Regions from separate parts of the Homo sapiens genome. Here region 1 is linked to region 2. A link means that fine-mapping ties the variant in region 2 to the expression of a gene that starts in the linked region. Tissue or cell type: testis. Region 2 holds a variant in brackets; the other region holds the start of a gene. All regions are shown on one strand. Distances are between the middles of the regions.

Evidence for each region. PIP is the estimated chance that this variant, and not a neighbour inherited with it, causes the effect.
Region 1: RAPGEF5 starts here. The variant in region 2 is fine-mapped to the expression of RAPGEF5 in testis (GTEx, PIP above 0.99).

Annotation. Positions count from the first base shown.
Region 1 is chr7:22,354,427-22,359,652 of GRCh38, forward strand. RAPGEF5 (Rap guanine nucleotide exchange factor 5) reads right to left here and starts at 2,728. Exons shown (of 26, transcript NM_012294.5): 1 at 2,404-2,728. The coding sequence starts at 2,634. RefSeq lists an enhancer at 2,004-2,073 and silencers at 2,194-2,423, 2,484-2,873.
Region 2 is chr7:22,212,781-22,218,006 of GRCh38, forward strand. All of the region lies in intron 9 of RAPGEF5 (Rap guanine nucleotide exchange factor 5), which reads right to left. Among named protein-coding and RNA genes, the nearest start is that of RAPGEF5, 140 kb to the right of the region's middle. The variant G/A (reference allele first, on the strand shown) is at 2,803.

The DNA.
Region 1 (5,226 bases), 140 kb after region 2:
ATCACTGCCCAATCCAAGGTGGTTAACCAGACAATCCCAGATGCTAACAAGTCACCAACCAACCAGTCTGATACATATTCTACTTGTATCTCTCTTTCTTTCAAACCCCCTGTGTTTTGGACTGTTAAGTGTATGCCCCCTACAAAATTCTTATGTTGAAGCCCTAACCCCAAACATGACATTATTTGGAGATGAGGCCTTTGATAATTATTTAGGGTTAGACTAGGTCATGATGGTGGGGCCCTCATGATGGGATTAGTGGCCTTATGAGAAGAGGGAGCCCTCTCTTCCTCTGCGTTTACCAAGGGAAGGCCATGAGAGGATATACGAGAAAGTGGTCATCTGCAGGCCAGGAAGAGAGCCCTCACCAGAAACCTAATCAGCCTACACATTGATCTCAGGCTTCCCAGCATCCTGAGCTGTGAGAAAATAAATTCCTGTTGTTTAAACCACCCAGTCTACGGTATTTTGTTATGACAGCCTGAGCTGCCTAAGACAAGTTCATATTTCACTTGTTTTTCTCCTTCTTTCAACCCCCTTCCTACTCCTTTGATGGGGAAGATTCCAAAATCACAAAGGTAGTTCCAAGGCAGAAGAAAGGGGAAATAAACAGTCAAATAAATAGTCAAAAAGTATGGGTTTCCAACACTGGAAAAACTGACAATCAAACTTCCTTCAATAAAAACTGGCTATGCAGTTACGAAATGTGTTTGGAAAGTCCCAAAAAGAAATAATACAGTATTAGAATCAAAGAGGGTTAATAAAGCATACATTATCTGAGGTAACCACATTCAGAGTAATTAAAAAATAAAACTAAATAGGTATATTGACAAGGTATACGACACCCTCCCAGGCAGCAAGAAACATGAGTATGAACGCAAATAAATACTATAGATCTATTTATACAGAAACCCTCAGCAATTCTTGTCGCAGACTGCCTGGCAGCCCTCATGTCTTCAGTATTCTGTGCCATGAAAAAGTAACCGTCAAGGATAATAGAAACATAATTTGACCTACTTTTCCCTGGATTCCTGCAAAGTCTATAACTCCAGTTCTTGTTTATTCCGACACCACATCTTGGGGACACATTTCCTCACTTACTTTGCAGGCAATCCTAAATGCCACACATGTTAAGGTCACTTGTGGGCAATTCCTAAACTCTCTGGGTCACCGACTTTAAGAATGTCCCATCACACACAGAGAATCCTCAGAACATCTTCTGAGATGGACCTGGGATGGACCATTTTCCACCTGAGATGGAAAATGCCTAGGAAAAGAGAGATGCAGCCTCGAGAAGCTGAAGACCGACATCAGTTCAGACCCTTCCCTACCCAAAGGAGGGCGCATGAAAACAAGTGGTTATCCCTCACTCTCAAGTTTACACAAACCCATCTCTGAAAGAGCTAGAAGTCTCCCAGCAAGGTCTTGTTTTAAGTCAGACAAGACTGCATTTTAAAAATTACAGCCAAACGGGAAAGAAAAACCACATTGATGCAGCTTCTCATTAAAGACCACTTAATAATAAATTTTTAAAAGATGAGTAGAACCCACCAAAGGTGCCGCCAAACCCTGGTGAGCAGGGAAATCTGAGTAAGTCAGCTCTGTGTCCTGAGGCCCTGGCGGGGCCTCCTAGGTGGCTTCTTAAAGATCCCAGGAGACAATCAGCAGACCTTCCTGCTTCTCTTAAAAATACAAAACATGCCTGACCTGCTCAGGTCATTAGATGCACTTAGAACTCAATGAGGGACACTCCTTCACCAGGAAATCGTATCTGAACACACCATCAGGAAGTCAATATTGAAGGTTCTTGGGGGCGTGCACCCTCCTGCTCAAGAGGGTGTCCAGGAGTATTAAGTGCTGGAGACACCGGAACCCAGGAACTGGAAGCTCACCCAAGAGCTTCCGACTCCTGGGTCTGCCCCTCGGCGGTGGAGACCACCAAAACCAGTCTCGATGCCCAGAGCTTGCAACAGCACCTCCAAAACAAGCACACACGTCGCATGCGTCCTGCAAACAGGGATGCCGCTCGTGGGGCCTGAAGCTTGCGGTTGGGACAGGGCTGGCTGGCTGTTGGACGCTGGACACCTGCAGCTTCCCCTCCGAGAAGAGGCAAACAGCTCGTCTTCAGCCGATGCCCGGTCCCGCAGCCTGAATCTGGGGGCCCTGGGGTTAAGTCAGGTGCAGCCTGGTGGGGGGGAGGTGTGGGGGCGGGGGAAGCCGTCGCTCAGGGGGTGGCACCTCAAAACCCGCCGTCCCGGGCCCCTCTTCAGCCGAGTCCGGCAGAAGGGCGTCCCTTCCGCCACCTCCCCAACTTCCAGACGCCCCCCTCAGCGGCCCGGGGGGTGGGCGCGGGCTCCACGTGCGCGCCGCCCGTGCCCACTCGGACAGGGCCGGGCCACTCACCCGGCCCCCAGCGGCGCTCCGCTTCCTCCGCAGCGTGAGCCCGCTCCGCAGCAGCGCGGGCAGGTCCCTCAGCCGCGGCCGCAGCGACGCCGGCGGCTGCTCGCGCTCGGGCTCCCGGGCGCTGGGGCTGCGGCGCAGGGGGCCGTCTGCCGCCACCACCGCCGCCGCGGCGGCCAGGGCCGGGCTCTCGCACGGCGGCTGCATCTTGACGGAGCCCACGGCCATCCTCATGCCCTGACGGCGCTGCGGCGCCGGGGGCTCCTCTCCACCGCGCTCGCCTCCGCGCGCCGTCCGCGCCTTCGCCAGGAAGCGAGAGGGCGCGACTGCGGCTCGGGCGCGGGGCGCGCTGCCAGCCGCTGCCCATTGGCGCGCGCCGCGGCCCCCGCGAGGCTCAGCCCCGCGCGCCTCCCCTCCCCTCCTCTCTCCTCCCCTCCCCGCCCAGGTGCGCGGGCCCCGCCCCGCCCCGCCCTTTCGCCTGCGAAAGCTGCCTGGGACCTGTCCCCCTCGGATCTCCCACTCGGGACCCGGGAGGAAGAGGGCACCTTGGGCACCGGCTCATCCACAGGTGCAGAATTCCCAGAATCTCCGGCAAACCCGCTCTTCTGTCCTGTCCCTGTCCCCCTACCCCTTAGGCTGAAAAGTCCTGCTTCACTTCTTCGAATAGCCAGGGGTTGACTTGGACTTCAACCAAGTGTGCTGGAGAGTCGTCCGCCCTCCCGCGCGTTTTGCACAGCCTGGCCCCTCATCGTAATCTTTACTCCTGGGAACTGTTTTGGCCAAGGAACTTCAAAATAGACACGCTACAAGGCAAACACCATGAGGCAAAATTGCTTTGCGCCGACCCTTCTTGGCACACGCATCCTTAAAGGACGAAGGGAGAAAACTTTTGTTGGTTATGATAGGTGTTGAGCAGAGTAGCTGCAAGTCTGGTGACCTGAAGGTGAATCTCTGTTAGCATGTCAGAACCTGACCTTCCCTGAAAGCCCGCTGCTGTGATGAATGTGCTTGGTGAACTGTAAAGGCCTGCCGTGGTGTGAATCATTGTTTACACCCTTCCAGGAGGCAGGAATTCTGGATCATTGAGAGTGAAACTATTCCAGCAGTGCCTTAAACGCCAGGGAGTGTGAATGTTCACATCTCAGCTCAATCTGTCTTCAACAAGGGCCAGCCAGGGTGTTGACTTCTCATCAGTGGGGCGCTGGGATCCCCATCTTTGTCTAAGACTTACAAAAGTTGAATAAGCTTATTCACATTTTTAAAAAATGACAAGAATCGTAGGAGGTCAGGGTCCAGAGTTGGTTTACCATTGTGCCCTCAGCCACTCACATGGTAGGTGCTTGGCAAATATGTATAAAAACATGCCATGTAACAAAAAAGGAGGAACGAACTGTGACCTCTGCCCTTAAGGAAGGTAAGACTTAACCTAGGAGTAGACAAACATCCAGAAAAACAAAGATATTGCACTTGTACTCTTGCTAATTGCCAAGTAAGTGTAGGTAAGACCACTTCAGGCCACAGGAGAGAGAAATGCTTCTGGCCTGGGATGGGCAAAGCTAAATCCACGAAAGGAAGGAAGTTTAAACTGCACCTTAAGGGTGAGTGGGGAAGATTCAACCAGGCAGAAGGAGGGTAGGTGTCCTTCAAGTAAGGAAGAAAGACATGAGGCCGGGCGCGGTGGCTCACGCCTGTAATCCCAGCACGTTGGGAGGCTGAGGCGGGCGGATCACGAGGTCAGGAAATCGAGACCATCCTGGCTAACAAGGTGAAACCCCGTCTCTACTAAAAATACAAAAATTAGCCGGTCGTGGTGGTGGGCGCCTGTAGTTCCAGCTACTCGGGAGGCTGAGGCAGGAGAATGGCGTGAACCCGGCAGGCGGAGCTTGCAGTGAGCCAAGATTGCGCCACTGCGCGACAGAGTGAGACTCCGTCTCAAAAAAGAAAAAAAAAAAGAGAGAAAGACATGAGAAAAACACAAAGGTGGTATCACACAGAACTCACTGGGCACTGAAAATATGTCATGCTAGTGAAGGGAAAGATGACATAATGAAGAAGTAAGAGAAGATACCAGAATGGATGCTAGTAACACACTGCAGAAGGCCTTAAACCCTGTCACCTTAAGCTGTGTGTGTTAACTGGAAAGGACTTTATAATAGGACTCCATAGTCCATTACAGTTTCCAAATACCTATCACATGCATTTATCCAAGGCTGAAATTGCATTTGTATGTTACCATGTCAGACTCTATCCGTTTTTACAGTGTTAAGATATTGCAGCTCCAGTTGGTAATTGGTCGTTGTCTTGAGCCCCAGAGTGCCACTCACCCCCATACCTCCAACTTCCCCATGACATACAACTAAAGGGTGAACACCTGGCCCACTAGAAGCCCTCCAGGACACTCAGATTAGTGGGTGCTTGCGCCCCATCACCCCAATGACAACATTGAATCATACCATGAACTTACTCTACTCCAAAGTAGAACACGTGTTCCGTCTCCTGGTCCAGGTTCCTGGTCTTCAAACCCATTCACACAGTTGCTCAATGCAAGGCCAGCATTCCTTAGATTCTATGGGATAGACCAAGCGTCTAAAGTTCAAGAAGGGCCTTTGGAAAATTGGTTTAGGTTAAGGTGATAAATGACAAATGCCATTTAGCTTCAGGATAAAAATAGGCAAACAACAGGGAATAGTAGGATGTGTACACAGAAGAGCCACGTCACTGTTTAACTCAAATCAAGCAACCTTTATACTCGCTGTGCCCTGTCTGGAATGAGAGTCCTCTGCAATGCTGTCCAACAGAACTTTCTACAATGATGCACATTTTCTG
Region 2 (5,226 bases):
TTGATGGGGGTAGAGAAGAAAAGAATATAAGGTCACCTGGGGTCTGGAGTGAGATATACCACTGGGGGAGGAGGGTGATGGCAAAACAACAGTGGCAAATAACCTGCTTTTCAATACTTCACTTTAATGATTTTTCAACCATATTGCAGATGATATGGCTATTTTAATTTTACAAGAATAAGAACCTAATAAAGCTAGGAGCAGCATTTGTACAGCAGAGAATAAAAGGACCCTTTGATAACATGAGTTTGATAAATCAAACAAACTGAGCCAGTATCAATGTTCTTGATTGAGCCTTTTAAAATAAACTTGAGCACCGTCAAAAAATAGCATAATGACAAATTCCTCTCTCTTCAAAACCGCTCAAACTAATTTTTTAAAAATGTTAGGACTTGCAGTGGGCTTCTTGTGAAAACCTAAAAATACAGCTAATGAGCAGATGGTTCCACCAGACAGCAGGAGCACACCACTGACTTTCACTGGCAGTTAACTGCTATTTTTCTGGAGGAAAAGCTAGAATTTAAAGAGCACACACAGTGAACCAAACTTGTAAACCTTGTTCCTAAATAAATGAGAAGAGCATGGTTTGCTGCAGTTGTGAAATGTGTTTGCCAGATTTTACTTCCCTCTAAATGTCTTATTTAGAGACTTCATTAAATGCTGTCTTGAATGGTTAACTGTTTTCCATGTATAAATTCTTTCCCCAGCTAGACTGTAAACTTCTTGGAGGCAAGAACTAGCTACTTCTACTTTTTTGTTACTCTGTGGCCATATTATTCCCTATTAAAAATGGACTATAATAACTCACTCCAGGAAGCCTAATTCCAATGGAAAGATACTTTAATACCAATCCAACACAAAGTCAGGATTTTGTTATTAAGAAAAATAACCTGGTTTCAATGAGGTGATTTCTCAGTTTATAATTGGGCAACTTAATGTATTATGAATTGCCTATTATACCCTAGTTGTGACTTTCAATTCTATTACAGTAATGTTAGAAAGTTCTACTTCTCTTTAGTAAGTAGTTTCTTGGTTAAACTAAATTACTGATAAACTTCAAATAATGCTGGGATTGCTTGAAACTACTCACCTAGATGTACAATTATAAGTTTGAAAACAATGATCAAACCTCTTTTCCTTTTAGTATTTCATATAGAGTAAAAAGAGGATTTTCACCTTATATTTAACTGCTTAAAAAGAGACAAAATGAAATTTGGGAAAAGGTAGAGACCAACTTTTAATATGTAAATAAGTGTGACAGTAGCCAGAATACTCCAAACCACTTCTCCCCTCGTAATCCTTAAACAAGGAACCTTTGACGTAGGCAGAATTCCAGGATGAGGCTGCAGGAAACAGGGAAAAGGAAATTCCGGTTGAGGCTGAGTGATAGAGACCCTACCCTGGCAGCAGACTGTGCCAAGATGCAGTTTCAGAGTGTGCAAAATCCCCTTCCCACCCATCCATATTTCATGAGTGAATTAGAAAAGGGGAAGGAAGTAGGGTGGGTCCCCAGACTTAACAAAGGAACAGAAGAAAATGGGGTGGGGCAAGGGAGGGATACAGACAGGATCCCTAGGGAAAGTATTGCTGAACCAAGTTTTCACATACATTTTACAGATACTGCTCATTTCTACAGTTGGAAGTCAGGAAGTCAGGTTAGGAGCTATTGTTGGTATTTCTAATCTACAATTTAATACACTACAAAGCATAAACTACATTTCGGGAAAATACAGGTTCAGTTTTCTGGTGAATAGTGCAGCTATATTCCTGGAAATAGGACCCACATCCATCTAGTCATATACTTTGATGTAACTATTTTACTGAAAATAAAATATGAAAAGTTTATAAGCTTTTCAAATCTAAGTTACGACTGGGCAAGCACCTTTTCTTTTTCTGCATTCCCGCCCCCCAACCCCCATCCCTCCCTACGTATTCTTTCTGTCTCTGTCCTCCAGAGCTGCCCTCTGAGTGCATGCCCTCTTTCGAAGGACTGCTGTGGTTCCGGTTACCTTGGCTTCTGGGCCACCTATCAGTCCTCACTCCAGTGATGAAGGCTGAAGGAAGACACCCTCCAGAGGCAATCAGACTTGAATTCACTCTGGCCCCAAGTCTGCTTAATCACTCTTCAGCTCCCTCACTATTCAGTCACTGTTCAGTCAGATTGAAATAATATAATTTATCTCATGAAGGCCCTGCCTCAACCATCTTCCTTAGGAAAAGTTAGAACCCCACCTAACAATCTGTCAGTGAGATAAATACTAACATCTCAGCTACCTGAAGCAAACTGCAGGCAAACAAATGCTGAGTCGTTCCTCATTATTTCTAGAATGAAGTAAAACTTCTCAGCCCTCAAAATCCTCCACAGTCTGGTCCCAATCTCATTTCTCATGAAATCTTCCTTCTCCTGCCTCCCCTCCCACACCCCCAATTCTTGGTATTCTGGAAACATGAAATCGTTTCAGAGTTCCAAAAAACATCTAATATTTTGGTATCTCTGTGCATTTTCTAATGCTATTCTTCCCACTAGGAATACTCTTCTTCAATGTGGATTCTTTAAATCCAACCCAAAACCTAATTTAAGGTCCAGGTCAAACTACTTCTGCCCTATGAAAGAATCCTGCTTTCTCAGGTGTAAATTCTTCTTCAAACTCCTATGTGTCTCTCTTGGGATTCTCTTCACTGCTTCCTTGTATCTCAGTTAGTTGTGTTGATATCTTTCCTCCACAACTAGACTATACTTCTTGAGGGCAGGAGCCACATAGTTGGGAGCCACCATAGTTAGCCTGGCTCCTCTATGACATC[G/A]GCTTGAACAAAAGTTAGCAAATGAATGGATGACAGAGAGTATTCTAGAATAGAAGTATAGTAACACCAACTCAGATTACAGAGATCAGGAGAGCCACCCTAAAATCCCAGTTAATTCTGAGGAAGGCACACATATTGCAGCAAATGCCAAAGCTCTGGCCAAATATGTCGGTTTATTTGGGAGCTACCAGAGATTCTCTCTGTTTAAGGTATTTTCAAAGGGTTCTGGAAAGAAAAGTTTGTGTAGTCCCCATAGTGTTTGCCAGAACCCCACCTAACAATCTGTCAGTGAGATAAATACTAACATCTCAGCTACCTGAAGCAAACTGCAGGCAAACAAAGCAAGGGAAATGGCTTACATAGCTTTTTGGCAAAGGTGGTAAGAAACACAACATTCTTATGTCTGCCACTATACCAAAGAATCCTTACAAATTGCTTAATATAAAATAGCATGCACATCCCCCATTGCTAGTCACTGAATTCTGTCAATTTTACTGTGTAAATGACTTTCCACATTTACTCCCTCCTCAGTTCTTATGGTCATTGCCCCAGTTCAGGCTGGCACCTCTCACTTGACTCACTATGGTAGCTTTCTAAAGGTTCTTTCCAACATTTCCCTCTTCTTCACTCAATTCTTCCTCTAAAGCAATGCCAGAGAGATCTTACAAAGGCCACATCTGATTATGCCACTTCCCTTCTTTGATGGCTTTCCTTTGACCAAAAGGCAAGTTTAAGCTCCTTAGGGTAGCTGGTAGACTTTTTTAGCTTACCAGTCTTTCATAATGGAATTTTAGGCTGACTCCCAGCCCACCCCTCTCCATTCCCTAGGAATCACCAGGACTGCAGTCATGTATCTTCCCATGGGTCCCTCTGCCTGAAATGCTGTCCCCTGCCTTCTTCTATGACCATTAGTCATTCTTCAGGGTCAAGCTCAAAGGTCCCCATCTGATAACACACGTCCCTTGCTCTGTTGGCACAGTCACAGAATTAAGGCTAGGAAATACAATGCCTACATCAGAGATAATTTCTTTAAAGAACCAACAACTCAATGTTAACTCTACTATCATAATGTTTAGAAGACACAGCCCATTTCTTTCCCCTTCTGAAAGTCCTCCCATAATAATTTTCAACACATAGGAATGAGTGCTTGCTCATTGTGCCTACAGCTAGTTAATAGAAAATAGAAAAATGGAGTGCTTCCTGAGAAGCTTGCGATAATTATACATTTAACTTCTTAAATTTCAGAAACACCTTGGCAAAAGCATAGAGTGAAGCATTTCTCTAATGGCATGCATTTATAATCACAGCATTTAGCAGTTAAGAAAATATTAGAAATGCCTACTGAGAAAGCTGTAATCCCCTTCAATTTGTAACAAGATGTACCAGCAACAAAGGCTTTATTCTATCAAATTTATGTCTTTGCCTGTGCAGTAGTGCTACAAATTAGCTCTCTCTTTGGCATCTATGTGGCATTCTAGAACTGGAAAGTAATGAAGGTTAGTCAAAAGAATGACTCAATAGGCAACTTGGATTCTAACTCAAATTTTATCACTGTCGACTTAACTAGCTTTGGCCCAGGAATGGTGGATGAAGTCGATGAAGCATTTTAAAATCATAAAAGAAAGGAAATCTGTATGTAACTTCAGGGTTTGGTCATTATTGTTATAACAAGAAGAGGAAACTGCAGACCTAGGTTTACGTTAAGTAAACTGCAGTTTCCTCTGTCCATGCTGTGTGTCAGAACTGAGTTTCTATGAAGAGCAGATGACTGCTACTGTAAAGAAAGTGAGGACAGGAAAAACGAAAACACTGCACCACCTTCATGAACACTGTGAACTTAAGGGGTAAGCAAAGGTATAGGCACATCAAATGCCCAAGACATAAAAGATTGAAGTGAATTAGCAGGTGGTTTTTATTCCTAATAAATTACTGCAAAAACTGTAACCATCTAGTACCAAATAATTCATTTAGTGGAGGACTACATCAATATCAGCCTTGAGAGTTGAAAGATTCCACTGGTGTCATCCTGCAGAAGGGAGATGACAGAATGGCTTTGTTTATATTTATCACTAGAAAGAAAGATCCCTAATATTCCTTTCCTTATTTTAAGCTTCACAGGAAAGTCTACATAGAAAAAGTCATAATTCCAATGTTTATTTACACACCATCTTTCCTCTCAGAAACAAAAACGTTTCAGAGCTGTTAATGCACCCATGATATGACAGTCACGCAAGAAGTAAAAAATGTTAGTGTTCTGTTTTACAAGTGAAATGAAGGTTTAAAGGTGACAGAGCAGATAACCAGAGCAAAGCTGCAAATCTTCAATCACTAAATTTCTGCCTCATGTTAAAAGCCTTTACAATTATCAGCCCCAATGTAGATTTCTTTTTTTTTTAATTATACTTTAAGTTTTAGGGTACATGT